Regions from separate parts of the Homo sapiens genome. Here regions 1 and 3 are each linked to region 2. Evidence: fine-mapped expression QTL. A gene starts in region 2. Each other region holds a variant in brackets. All regions are shown on one strand. Distances are between the middles of the regions. Region 1 overlaps NT5DC1 (5'-nucleotidase domain containing 1). Region 2 holds the start of TSPYL4 (TSPY like 4). Region 3 has its middle 44 kb from the start of TSPYL1.

Region 1 (4,244 bases), 55 kb before region 2:
CGGTTAATAACAATAATTTTAGTTGCTGTAGTGCAGATAGAAGACAGTATAATACAGTAATGAAGGCACCCAAATGTCGGAGTTAGACTGTTAGAGATTCAAATACCATCTCTACTTTTTGATTGTTTAGCATTGGCCAATTGACACAATTACTTTTAAGTTCCACATGTGAAAATAAACTTGATAATGGTATTTATCTCATAGGATGTTATGCAGATTCAGTGAGATAATGTATAAAGAACTTAGCACAAGGACTGATGGATTGAAAGCGCTAGGTAAACATTTCTTCTTTATGTTTGCTACCATTGAGAAGCGTTTACATGTACCAGACATGCCAGTGCATTGACTACTTTATATACACATGTCTACTTCATTAGGAGCTCCACAAATAGCTTCACCCCAGATAGGGCTGCCACCAAAGCTCTCTGAATTTTGTCATAGAGGGCAGTGGCAATTTATGGCCCCAGGGCACCTAGCTTTGCTCAGAAAATGTCCTTCATCAGCTTGCTAGTGCCAAGAGTGAGCAAGCTTTTTCTAAATCTTCCAAGAGAGATCCTGGTAAATAAAAGGGTTATTTCTCCTGTCAAAGTGCTGGGTGGTCACCACATCAACAAATAGGGATTCAGTCACTCACTTCCTCTCCAAATTGAGGTCACTGAGTAGTGAACAACAGTTTCTGGGTAACAGCCATCTACTTGGTAAGGTTCACCCATTCATTCAAAGCCACGTAACTATTCCACACAGCTTGATCCTGAAACAGAAAACAGTCAATGTGGCCAGTAAATGATGGCTTATATGGAGATAGGCCTTTCCTTTTCAGGACCATTATATGTAACTGTGCTCATGCCCTGCTTGACTCAAGCAGCTTGTTTAAAGAGCATGCCTTCTTCTATTCGTCCCATACATAAGAACTACAGGTGGCTGGGTATAGTGACTCATGCTTATAATACCAGCAGTTTGGGAGGCTGAGGCAGAAGAATCACTTGAGGCCAGGAGTTCAAGACTAGCCTGGACAGCATAATGAGACCTCATCCCTAGAAAAAAAATTTAAAAATAGCCAGATCTGGTGGTGTGCACCTGCAGTCCTACCTGCTTGGGAGGCTGAGGCAGGATTGCTTGAGCCCAGGAGTTCAAAGTTACCTATGAGCTACGATCACACCACTGCACTCCAGCCTGGGCAACAGGGGAAGATCCTGTCTCTAAACAATATTTTTTTAAAAAAAGGACTACAGGAGTCTCTTATCTGATTTGAGAGCCATGTTTCTTAACCAAAGTGGGGACTTTTTCTTCTGATAGGCTAACTCATGAGGTCACAGAATGAGACAGAGTCTTCCATGGTGATCCCTCATAGCCACCAATAGAAAACTAATTCAGTTAGAATATAAACAGTGTAAATTAGATGAAGAATCTTCTAGTATTTATTCCTTTAGCTACCTTAGCACTATTGTCATCTTGAACTGGGTAATTCTTTGTTGGAGGAGCTGTTCTGTGCATTATATAATGTTTAGCAAGATCACTGGCCTCTATCCACTAGATGGTAGTAGCAGCACCCTCCACCCACCAGAAATTGCCAAATGTCCCTGGGGGGTGAGGGGAGCTAAATCACCCTCAGTCAAAAGCCGTAATGTATAAAAATATCTTTCCATGAAAGACAGACTCTCCAGTTGTTTCTTCTAGATAGACAAGAGAGTTTGTCAGTTACGCCTATTAAATTTTACCTTCTGAAAGGACTATCTTCTGGAAGTGCCTTTTTCCTTTTCTTATAGGTTGTTAATCTGGTCTTTGATGCTGTGTTCTCATCCAGAAGACATTAGATAGTCAAAGGACAGGGAACTACCATTAGAAGACTGAGTTTTATTCCAACACTGCTATTATTAGCCTTGGCACTGAGCAAATCCTTTAACTACTCTAAGCCTTAGTTTACCTATCTGTCATCAATGTTGTGGAAAGAGAAATATGTATGTACAAAAGCATCTTTAAAAAACAAAGAAGTCACCTAGCACTCAGATCTTAGTTTCTAACGCCATTCTCCAGTATTAGAAGCCAGGGCTCCTTGGAGAAATCTCTGACTTTAGGCCTGGGGCAGGAAATATACAAGATGACCTAGAGCATCTTGTAGTGCCAGAAGTAAATAAATGCTTTTTAAAAATTACAATGATGGAGGTGTGTAAAAGGGACACAGGAATTAAAGGATAGAGCTCCCAATGGCTAATGCTGGAACAATTTGAGAACAAAATAAATAAAGTAGTATGGAATTATAACCCAGAGTATAAAATAACCATCAATGAGTCTGGTATAAATAAGTGATTAACAAGTAAATAAATGGGGAGAAGAGACTAATCTACCACACAAAATATTTCCAAAATAGTTTATGCACACATTTTACCTTCAAGAAGGTAGAGCATGAATTTTTACTCCTTAAGGGTAGCCTGTGCATTGTACTTCCTTACAAAGAGTACAGTATGGAAAGTG[G/T]GGGGGGAAGAGTAACTTTGCAGTGGGGCAACCTGACAAATACTGTCCTGGCCAAATCATCCAGGTCAACATCAACAGTGACCCTTAATAGTATATACCCTTAATATAACATGAGAGTGGCACTTTATCTCCATGGTCTTCCACCCAATAACACATAACCCAGTCTAATGAAAAAGTCAGACAAATCCCAATTGAAGGACATTCTACAAAATATCTAACTAGTACTCCATAAAACTGTCAAAGTTACCAAAAACAGGGGAGGTCTGAAACTATGTCACGGTCAAGAGTAACCTAAGGAGACATAACCAGTAAACGTAATATGGTATCCTGGATGGGATCCTGGCACAGAAAAGAGACATTAGGTAAAAATTAAGGAAATCTAAATGAAGTGAGGACTTTAGTTAATAATAATGTATTGGTATTGCTTCACTAATTGTGACAAATGTACCATAATATTGAAAGATATTGATAGGGAAATTGAGTGTGAGGTGTATGGGAACTCTGGACTATCTTTGTAATTTTTCTGTCCATCTAAAACTACTAAAATTAAAATTTTATTTTAAAAAGCATAGCTAAATAAAGGTAAGACACTATTATAAGTAATGGTTATTTTATCCAGAAGGATATTATCGAGCTCTGGTATATAATTCCCTTAGTTTTAAAAGTCTATTCATGAAGTCATTCCTCAACTTCTCTCTCTGGGTGATATTTAATGTCCTTATGGATCGTACTTCATCTCTTCTCCCACTAGCTTGGAGCAGTTTCAGGTTCCCAGCTAAAGAAACTGAAGGATATCACATAACAGTTCTTCACCTTCTTGGCATAAATCCTGTGGCAGACCATGTTTACTTTTTCTTCTGAGGAAATCCACATATGCTCCCTTCTTCTTCCCCCACCCACTCAGAAATACAGCTGCCTTACAACTTACCAGTGCTTTTTTCTAACCAAGGTCTGAAAGGTTCTCTGTTTAGTTTCTTTGTTCTCAAGAGGAATGGAAAAAAGCGGGAAGGTACTATGGTAGCACCCCACAGCACCAACTTGCCCAGTAGGAGTGAAGTACTAACTTGCCCAATAGGAGTGAAGTACCAACTTGCCCAAGAGGTACTGCACCTAGATGTGTGCAGAATAAGAAGGTGAGATAAGGGGATCCTTCAGAATGAGTCACCACATGTAAAATCTTGGAGGGACAATACATGAGCAGATAAAAAAGTTTAATATAGGTAACTACAATTAGTTACCTCTATGATACTCTTGCCTTTTTGGCTGTAGCCATTATAACTAACTGTGTAATTGGAAGTCATTCCCACCACCTTTATTTCAGTGAACAGTATTGTTTATTCATTCTGGGCATATTGCACTGTATAAAGGTATGTATTTGAACATAGTTTGTTACAGAAATTGAATTTAGAATCACTCCAGTATATAGAGTAGTGTTCTGTAATCCGTTGGTGGAGAAGAATTGACCAATCAAATTTCCCTAATGAGACCAGTGACTTATGGGACTGCCTCGGTAATGCTTTTCAGTTCTGAGAACTTCAGTGAGGTGAGCATTTGCCAGAGTCAGGTTTACTGATGATATTAAAAGTCTTGGTTAATATAAAGATAATAGGGCAAACAACATGTGCTTACTATTATTTAGGCTTGTTTGACATCCCTTCCCACCCATGAAGTCGGGAAGGTAATATGTGGCCACTTCTGACATGTGAGGTCATGGGCAAGGACATGCAGCCGAAAGAAACACAGGTGTACAGCCTAAGCCACTTGATTCTGGG
Region 2 (4,244 bases):
TCAGTTTTGTCTTGCAGTGGTAATACCCAAATAGCTTACCATAAGTACATGGGTATCAGGACACAGCCAGCATAAAGTATGAAGCCCAATCAGTTATTTGTGAAAATGTATCAAGATTCTTTGTGGTACAGAACCACTTAAATTGGGAGAAGAGCATGGTCACAGATAGGGTCCAAGCCATGCAAAGAAAGGCAGTATGGTACACTATATCTATAGTATCATACGCTTGGCATAGAAGCCGTAGAAGGCCATGCACTTGAAACATGTTAACACAATGCAGAAAAGCATGAAGGCCCAGAGGAAGAATGGCACAGGCAGGTAAGCCAACAATCTTGCAACCGATTACTGAAGATTTAGAACCAAAGGAAAAGATAATCCACAGTATGAAGAGAAAGCAGATGGAAGACTGCATGCTGTTGGCCAAGCATAGGTCCAAGAGGAGGTGGTAAGGAAACTTGTGCAGAAGCTTCTCACAGGACAGAGATTAGCCAGACTGGAACCTGAAGGATCTGGCGCTCTCCACTGGCTGCCTTGGTGGGCCTCGAATTCCTCTACGGGGCCCTTCACCCATCAGGTAGTATTGTAGGGGATTGGGCCACAGTTCTCCTTTGATAATCTCTGCAATTCTGTCGAATTCTAGAAGGCTGTGGTCTGAAAACCAGTTGAAGAAACTAGGGATAGTGTTCCCTTCCCGGTTTCTGTGGATATGAGCCTGGGGGTCTTGGCCTCGGTGCCAGCGGATTGGAGTGGAAAGAGACACCACCCGGCCAGAGGATCTGCGTTCATATTCCTTGACAAGCCCCTCATTTCGGAAGTAGGGGTTGCCCTGAAAGATGAACTTGAATTTGCAGCCTGCTCTGGGGTGTTTAAGCTCCTCCACCTCCAAATTGATCATGTACCTCAGCATGTCTTCATCTTGGCCACTGATCATAGGTGACAGCTGGGGGTGGTTTCGAAAGGCAGTAACCCAGAAACCTGGGATATTCTGGATAATGAAACTTCTGCGCTGCATGTGGAGCCTTCGCATGCGGCCAAACTTGCGCTCAAGCTGAAGGAAGGCCCTGTCAGCCTGGGCATTTACGTTTGACAACTCTTGATCGATGGCCTCCAGTGAGTCCATGCAGTTATTGATCTTCGGGGCCCTGGGCCGTGTCTCCTCTTTCACCCCTCCTGCCACCTTTTTTTCCTTCTGCACTACCTTCTTTTCCTCCATCGCCGCCCCTGCTTCTCCCTCCTTTTCCACTGCTGCCGAGATGGCGCGTTTTTTAGTCGTCACTTCCTTGGCCTTCTTCCCCGGTATCATCTGAGACCCCAAGCCCCCTGCGCCACAGGCTTCTAGAGCCTTCTGCCCAGCAGGGCCACGGGGCTCTCCAAGCTGACAGCCATTTTTCTGGCTGCTGTCAGCAGCCTCGGCGGCAGAGGCTGCTTCCAGACCTTTCGTAGAAGGTGGAGCATCCTCCTGCCCGGCTTTGGTCGCTGCACCGCCGCGACTCCCGGCAACTGGGACGCGGAGCGCGGGGCCACAGTCGACAGGATCCTGGGATGCACCCCCCTCCGCAACGGTCTCCAGGCTGCCCCCACCTGTGTTCGCCATCACCTGTGTCGCCTCGGTTTCTTCACGGAGCCCTTGGCACTGGTCTCGGTCCGGATCTCCTGAGGCATGGTCGGGAGCAGCCAGGCCGCCGGTTTGGGCGAGAGGGAGCTTGTTGCCCCCATCCAGGCCGCTCATTTTGGAAGAAGTCAGACTAGTGGGAGAGGGAGAGTTCCTTGTCCTCCGCAGCGGCCGAGCTCTGCCCGAAACGTCTAGCACCACCCCTCCTTTACTCTCGGCGGTGCTACCATGGCAACTGGTGATGTCAGGGCGGTAGCGTCGTAACATCGCGCGAGAACTCTCTGCGCGGTTGACTACGCTTATCAATCCATCGTATTCCTTTGTCTTCTTGTCACAAAAAGAATTTCGTCAGTCTGGAAGGGGAGTTTTACTTACGTAAATGGATGTAGACCAGACTCAAGCATGTAAGAACTGTGTTAATGTGGATTTCTAAGCCTCTGAATGAATTTCTAAGGCACCTAACCTATTGTTTCTGAAAATATTTACTTTAAGGTGAGTTACTGTCTATTCAAGTCAGTTCATAGGGCTTCTCCTGAGTAGGAAAGTGGATTCACGAACTCACAGGCCTTCCTTCTTTTAAGGTGTGGATTCATGGCTATTACCAAAGAATTTAAATGAGCAGAGTTTGATTTTAAAGAGAAGTGTTGCTGTGTTGTTATTTTTAAAATTAAGGAGCAGCTGAAAGGCAAACTTCTCTCATCCTAACAAGACATAATAAAGGAATATTTCAATTTGTCTTACAGATTTTAAAGTTTATATAATTTGGCCAACATCTACAAAACAAGTGGACAATATTTCCTCTTCACTTTTAACAAAGAGTAGCAAAATGTTTTTCCTTACGTAGAGGTGACTGGCACACGAGCACAAATTTAGGCTTTTAAGCATTACTGAAAGAAATATCTCAGGGGATTTTAATTTCTAAACTGATGCATATGTTCTTTTCCTCAGGTTACAATCTTAATCTAAAAGTGGTTCCTGCTTCATAATGCCTGTGGACATGAAGCTAACAAATCTTTTCAAAATGTGTTCATGTGGTAATTCACTGCAGCACAGGAGCAATAATCAGCTATGTGCAGGCATCTATGCTACTGTCTCTTAAAATACTTTAAAAGTAAGGTTAGTTATTGTCTATTCGAGTCAGTTAGCTCTTACAATTCATTTGATAGTGATTATCAGTACAATATATTAGTTTGTTGGAGTGTGAGAATAATGGTGTTAATCCTTAGAAAAATGCAAGACCAAAGGGAAATTTAAATTTTGCATATTTATGTTTAATGTCAAATTTATATTCAAATAAACGGTTATGATTATAACTCTTTGTAAAAGAAACTCCATTTTAAGCCCCCCAGATTATGATCACTTTCAAATACAGGCTCAGAAGTACAGATTTAGAGAAAAAGGATTCCTCTTAGAGGAATACATCATATATACTGAGACTTCTAGCGAGGGAAGGAGTGTAGTTCTGGTTCAACTAAGATAAAGTACTGATGAAAGGTCACTGGCAGACAATACGGAGAAACAGCCTGCCTTGCAGGATTTTTTGTATGCCTAGTCAGCCTACCCAAGGACAATGTGTCCAGAATGACCTCTTTACTGCCTGCCAGCTAATCAGTTATCCCATAAGAAATATGCAAACAAGATTCACACAGCAGAGAGCAATTATTTTTCTCTCCCTCTTTCCTCTTTGTCTTAATAAACGCTCTTTTTTTATTTGTGGGGTGAAATCAATCTATTGAGGTATCGTCTTTGTAAACACATAAACAGCGTGCTATAATTGACTTTGTGACTTTGAATTATTGACACTGCTCTGTTTCTTTTCCAAAGAACCTTTGCACTGTTGAAAGAGTAACTTTTCCATTATAACCTGAGTCAAGATGAAGAGAAGCAGGGAATACTGAATGAAAGTTACTTTTCCATGCAGCAGGAAAAAACAAGTTTGCTACTATACAAATTTATAGAAAAGTATAAAATTACATGTGAACTTCTTTTTCTTTTTGTGTGTGCCAAAGTTTTTTAAAGATTTATATCTCTACTACTCAAAGCATTCCCATCTCTAGCCTGTATTAGTTCTGTCACCTGAATCATTTTTCACTCATAACCACCTGGCCATTCTTTAACACTCAGTTCATGTAGATTGTACTAGGCAGTTTAAATACATTAGATTTTATAAACAAAGACCCAGTGAGCACAGAGCAGTTAACATGCCCATGGTCACATATGTATTAATTGGCAGATTGCCTCCTCCCACCTTATTACTTTACCTCCTTCCTTAATTACTTGCCATTTTGACAGTCTTCTGATTTCTGTATAGCCCTTATGACTTTTACTATCCAACTTAGTACAGTTACGTTTCACTGAATGACAGGGATTTTGTCATTATGGAAACATCATACAGTACATCTATCAAACCTAGCTGCAATAGCCTACTATACACCTAAGCTAAATAGTATATCATATTGCTCCTAGGCTACAAACCTGAACAGCATGTTGCTGTACTGAATACTGTAGGCACTTGTAACATAATGGTAAGCATTTTTGTATCTAAACATAAGAATGATACAGTAAAAATAGAGTATTACAATTGTATGGTCCCACACTTGTATATGCAGTTCATCTTTGACCAAAATGTTAT
Region 3 (4,244 bases), 69 kb after region 2:
GTGCCACCATGTGTAGCTAATTTTTCATTTTTTTTTTTTTTTGGTAGGGATGGGGGTCTTGCTATCTTGGCCAGGCTGTTCTAAAACTCCTGGCCTCATGCAGTCCTCTTGCCTCAGCCTCCCAAAGCACCGAGATTTGACAAGCATGAGCTACTGCACCCAGCCCACAAAAACTCTTCTTATATTTACAGTTCCTGGCCAGGCACAGTGGCTCATGCCTGTAATCCCAGCACTTTGGGAGGCCGAGCAGGTGGATCACGAGTTCAGGCATTGGAGACCAGCCCAGCAAACATAGTGAAACCCCGTCTCTACTAAAAATAGAAAAAATTAGCCGGCGCCTGTAATTCCAGCTACTCGGGAGGCTGAGGCAGGAGAATCGATTGAACCCGGGAGGTGGAAGTTGCAGTGAGCCGAGATCGCGCCACCGCACTCCAGCCCGGGTGGACAGTGTGAGACTCCATCTCAAAATAAATAAACAAACAAATATTTACAGTTCTTTAAGTAGTGTCTGCCTTCTCCCCTATACTGTGTCATAAGGGCAGGAACTTTGTCTTTTTTGTTCACTACTGTACGTCTAGTACCTGACAATCAACATGCCGCAATTTTTTCACATGATAGTGTAGCAGGACGAGCCACAGACAAAACTCCTCAGACACCGAGTTAAAGAAGGAAGGGGTTTGTTCGGCCGGGGGCATCAGCAAGACTCCTGTCTCAAGAGCCGAGCTCCCCAAGTGAGCAATTCCTGTCCCTTTTAAAGGCTCACAACTCTAAGGGGGTGCGTGTGAGAGGGACGTGATTGATTGAGCAAGCAGGGGGTACGTGACTGGGAGCTACATGTACTGGTAATTAGATCAGAACAAAACAGGATAGGGATTTTCACAGTGCATTTCTATACAATGTCTGTAATCTATAGATAACATAACCGATTAGGTCGGGGTCGATCTTTAACTACCAGGCCCAGGGTGTGGCGCCGGGCTGTCTGCTTGTGGATTTCATTTCTGCCTTTTAGTTTTTACTTTTTCTTTCTTTGGAGGCAGAAATTGGGCATAAGACAATATGAGGGGTGGTCTCCTCCCTTAATAGAATAAGTGGAATATGATGTTAAATAAAAGAGATGAAGACCTGGATGTTCCCAAAGGTCTGTAGGCCTCAGCCAGCCTCCCAGAGGGAGCAGAGCCTCTGCCACTGAGTCTTTAGACAAACCTTTCCTTCCCCACCATCCCCAAAATTACTTCTGCCCCCCCACCCCAATTAAATAAGATTTACCTTTGGGACCTGTTGAATAAACCTGGAGTGATTTTTTAGGTTTCTGATTGCCTTCTTCCTAAAATATATCATTTCGTTGATGCTTAAAGTAAATAAAGAAAAAGTATTTCATTCCTCAACCAGTGATAAGATTTAAATGCAAACCTGTGATTGAAGCTGAGATTTCAATTTGTTGAAATGTAATCAGCCCATGTGCATGTGTAAATGACTCTCAACCAAGATTTTCTGTTTAAATATGGAGAGAAGAGAGAGAAGTGGCAGGGTAGAAGAGACTGCAGAATAATGTTTCAGAAGAGTAACTTCCCAGATTTGACACTGCACTCCATGTAGAGCAAGTTGGAGTGTTAGTGTAGAGAGCATTTTTTTGCTTCCTGGCTGTGGGAAGTCCTCCCCTAACCACCTGCAGAAAATAATTTATCCATGCAGGGAGCATAAGGGTCTTCCAGAAAAGAGAGCTGATAGTGGTTCACAGTATTTTGCGCTTTACTGGTCTGTGATTATGGAATCCCAGATTTGCAACAATTGAAGTCTGGTTTTGTTAATGTTATTCTTTAAGATGTCAGTGGAAACATTTCTCTCCCAGTTCCCTTGTAAAGTGAAAATTACACATCAGTTGTAAGCCAGCTTTTAAACAGATTTCTTTAAAATATGTATTTTTTTCAGTTGTAGCAATGTCATGTCATTTACCTTGTAAGAAATCCTATACTGAGAAATATAAGAGCTGAACATCTTTCACTGTGTTTCTTCACGACTGTACTCAATCTTATTAGATTCTTCTACTGTTAAGCTAATAATTAATTTGGATTTCTATTTTTTTATTGAGTAGTGAGATTCACATTTGACTTGCCAGAAAAATAAAAAACTTTTCA[G/A]TGGCAGCAAGGCAGATAATAATTACTTCTTGGACATTCGTTTAGCAGCCAGGTGCTATAGTGTGCTTTGTCTACAAATGTGCTTTTAAATGTTCTTATCGAAAAGTGTGTCCAGGAAAAACCTTTATATTATTATGATCTATTTTACTCATTTTAGTTCTAAGGGTAATGGAATTTCATGTCATTTGATTTGTAATGAACAACACAAAGATTTTTAAATATTCTGAAGAAAGTTTTGAAAATTTAAATCTAACAGAAAAGTAAGAAATATGTTTAATAGCATTTCAGGTATAAAATATACACCAAGAGAAAAAATTAAGTTGGCAATAAGTTATAGTTAATTTTGTATATGGTTTCTATAAGGGGAAAACAGGTCATTAGCCTGATCATGTGCATCTTTCCTGATACCTTTCTTCTCATTCCCTCTTCCATTATCTTCCCTCCACTTCTACCATCCTTCTTCAGCCAGGATATATTTTTAATGGCTGATTTATCCAACTCTTCTCTTTTTTTCTGGGCCCCCTAGTCAAACCTGCCCCACATAGTCAAACCACAACTCATTAACAACCCTCAGAGGCAAGGTAAGAGGACAAAAGAGAAAAGGAAGTGCCCACCTGTGAGATCTGAATTCAGCAGTTAATAGGTCCCCCTCTTACCCCTCACCCCAGGCTCCAAAGGGGCTTTCTTCGTATTAACATGTGGGAAACACAAGTCCCAAAGCTATGTCTGCTAGTAGGCTTTCCTGCTAATTTCACCATCATTTTATTAGACTTCACTTATATCTTACTTCATCAGCTTGCCATTGGCAGGTGGGCAGATTTTCCTCAGTTTTTGGCCTAACTCCAAGATATATACAACAGCAGGCAAGATCCAGGAAAGCAAAGGTATTTTGACTATTTTTCCCAGTTTGCTTTAATAGCTTAGGACAAGTAACCTGCTGGAAGGCAGCAGTTTAGATTATTGACAAGAATATGAGTTTGGAAGTCAAATAGTCACAGGTGAAATCCCAACTCCACCCCCTTGTAGCTGTTTGAATTGACTCCATGAGTTTTAGATCTTCATCAACACAAAGGACAGGGAAAGCACAATTGCTTTAGAATAGGATAGTTGCAGCGTACGTAGCTTTGGAACCTACATGAGATTCTGAGGGTTGTGTGCAGGGGTATATGTAAAATACAAAGAGAGCTGGCTTTGTTAAACAGCAATGGTAGAACAACCCAGGTGACCCGGAAGTTCATTATCCCCTCTCATTGGTAGCTCGAGGAGCCTGAGTTAGCTTAAGGAAAGAACAGGCTTCCATTTCAACTACTTCTTTCCATTGCATTGATGTTCACTGCACTTCTCTGTTCCTTATAATGAGTAGAATATTATAGGGGGAGAGTTTCACCCTTTTGGGGATGCATGCAGTCCATTTCTGCCTGTGTGCACTCTCCTATGTCTGTGCTTTTAAGTTTTCTCTGAGTTTATCCCATTTTATATTTGTACTATGAGGCACTGATAAGGAGTGCTAATGACTCCTTTGCATAACAGTTGGAGATTAGCTAGGGACACATACCACCCACTCTGGGGTTAGGTGTGTTTTGGGAAGCAGCAGAGTTTAACTGGTTCACCCAGGGTGGAAACAATCCTCCTTGGAAAGGCTGGAACCAGGTGGCTGCTAACCCCGAATCATGTCTGGTGGCATCATAGGAGTCCTTCAGACACCAAAGCCTCCAAACCCACAAGTCACTGGGAAAAGGTGGATTTTCTGCAAAAGAAAAACCCTGGCGAGTGAGACTCATGGTTGCCTAAATTTTCTAAGTCCCAAGACCTCACTTTCAGATGTTTCTTCCCCATGTCTGGGGTGAAACCATGCATGATTTTTGAAAAATGTCCACCACAAGTTGTGATGTGCACTCCAGGATGAGTACTGCATGATACATAATCTCCAAAGTTCCATCAGCTCTTTAGTTCTTGAGGTAGGTATCATCAGAAACATATGAGCTCCTTCCCTTTTGGATTAGAGGAATTGTACAAAATGATTTGTTTTTATCTTCTATCTTGCCTTCATCCCCAGATTTCTTGCAACTTTCATCATTTTTTTAATAAAACCTAATGTCCTGTGTTGCA

The links. PIP is the estimated chance that this variant, and not a neighbour inherited with it, causes the effect. A credible set is the group of variants that fine-mapping cannot tell apart.
Region 1: its variant is the best candidate, but not a certain one, in a credible set for the expression of TSPYL4 in lung (GTEx, PIP 0.80).
Region 3: its variant is the best candidate, but not a certain one, in a credible set for the expression of TSPYL4 in whole blood (TOPMed, PIP 0.77).

What each region holds. Positions count from the first base shown.
Region 1 is chr6:116,197,529-116,201,772 of GRCh38, forward strand. The region is part of intron 6 of NT5DC1 (5'-nucleotidase domain containing 1); the gene reads left to right. It also overlaps a transcript of COL10A1 not described here. Among named protein-coding and RNA genes, the nearest start is that of TSPYL4, 54 kb to the right of the region's middle. The variant G/T (reference allele first, on the strand shown) is at 2,473.
Region 2 is chr6:116,252,280-116,256,523 of GRCh38, forward strand. It overlaps TSPYL4 (TSPY like 4), which reads right to left and starts at 1,796. Exons shown (of 1, transcript NM_021648.5): 1 at 1-1,796. The coding sequence starts at 1,729. The coding sequence ends at 485. It also overlaps a transcript of DSE not described here. RefSeq lists enhancers at 1,368-1,527, 1,938-2,167.
Region 3 is chr6:116,321,311-116,325,554 of GRCh38, forward strand. It overlaps a transcript of DSE not described here. Among named protein-coding and RNA genes, the nearest start is that of TSPYL1, 44 kb to the left of the region's middle. RefSeq lists enhancers at 2,462-3,029, 4,052-4,244. The variant G/A (reference allele first, on the strand shown) is at 2,136.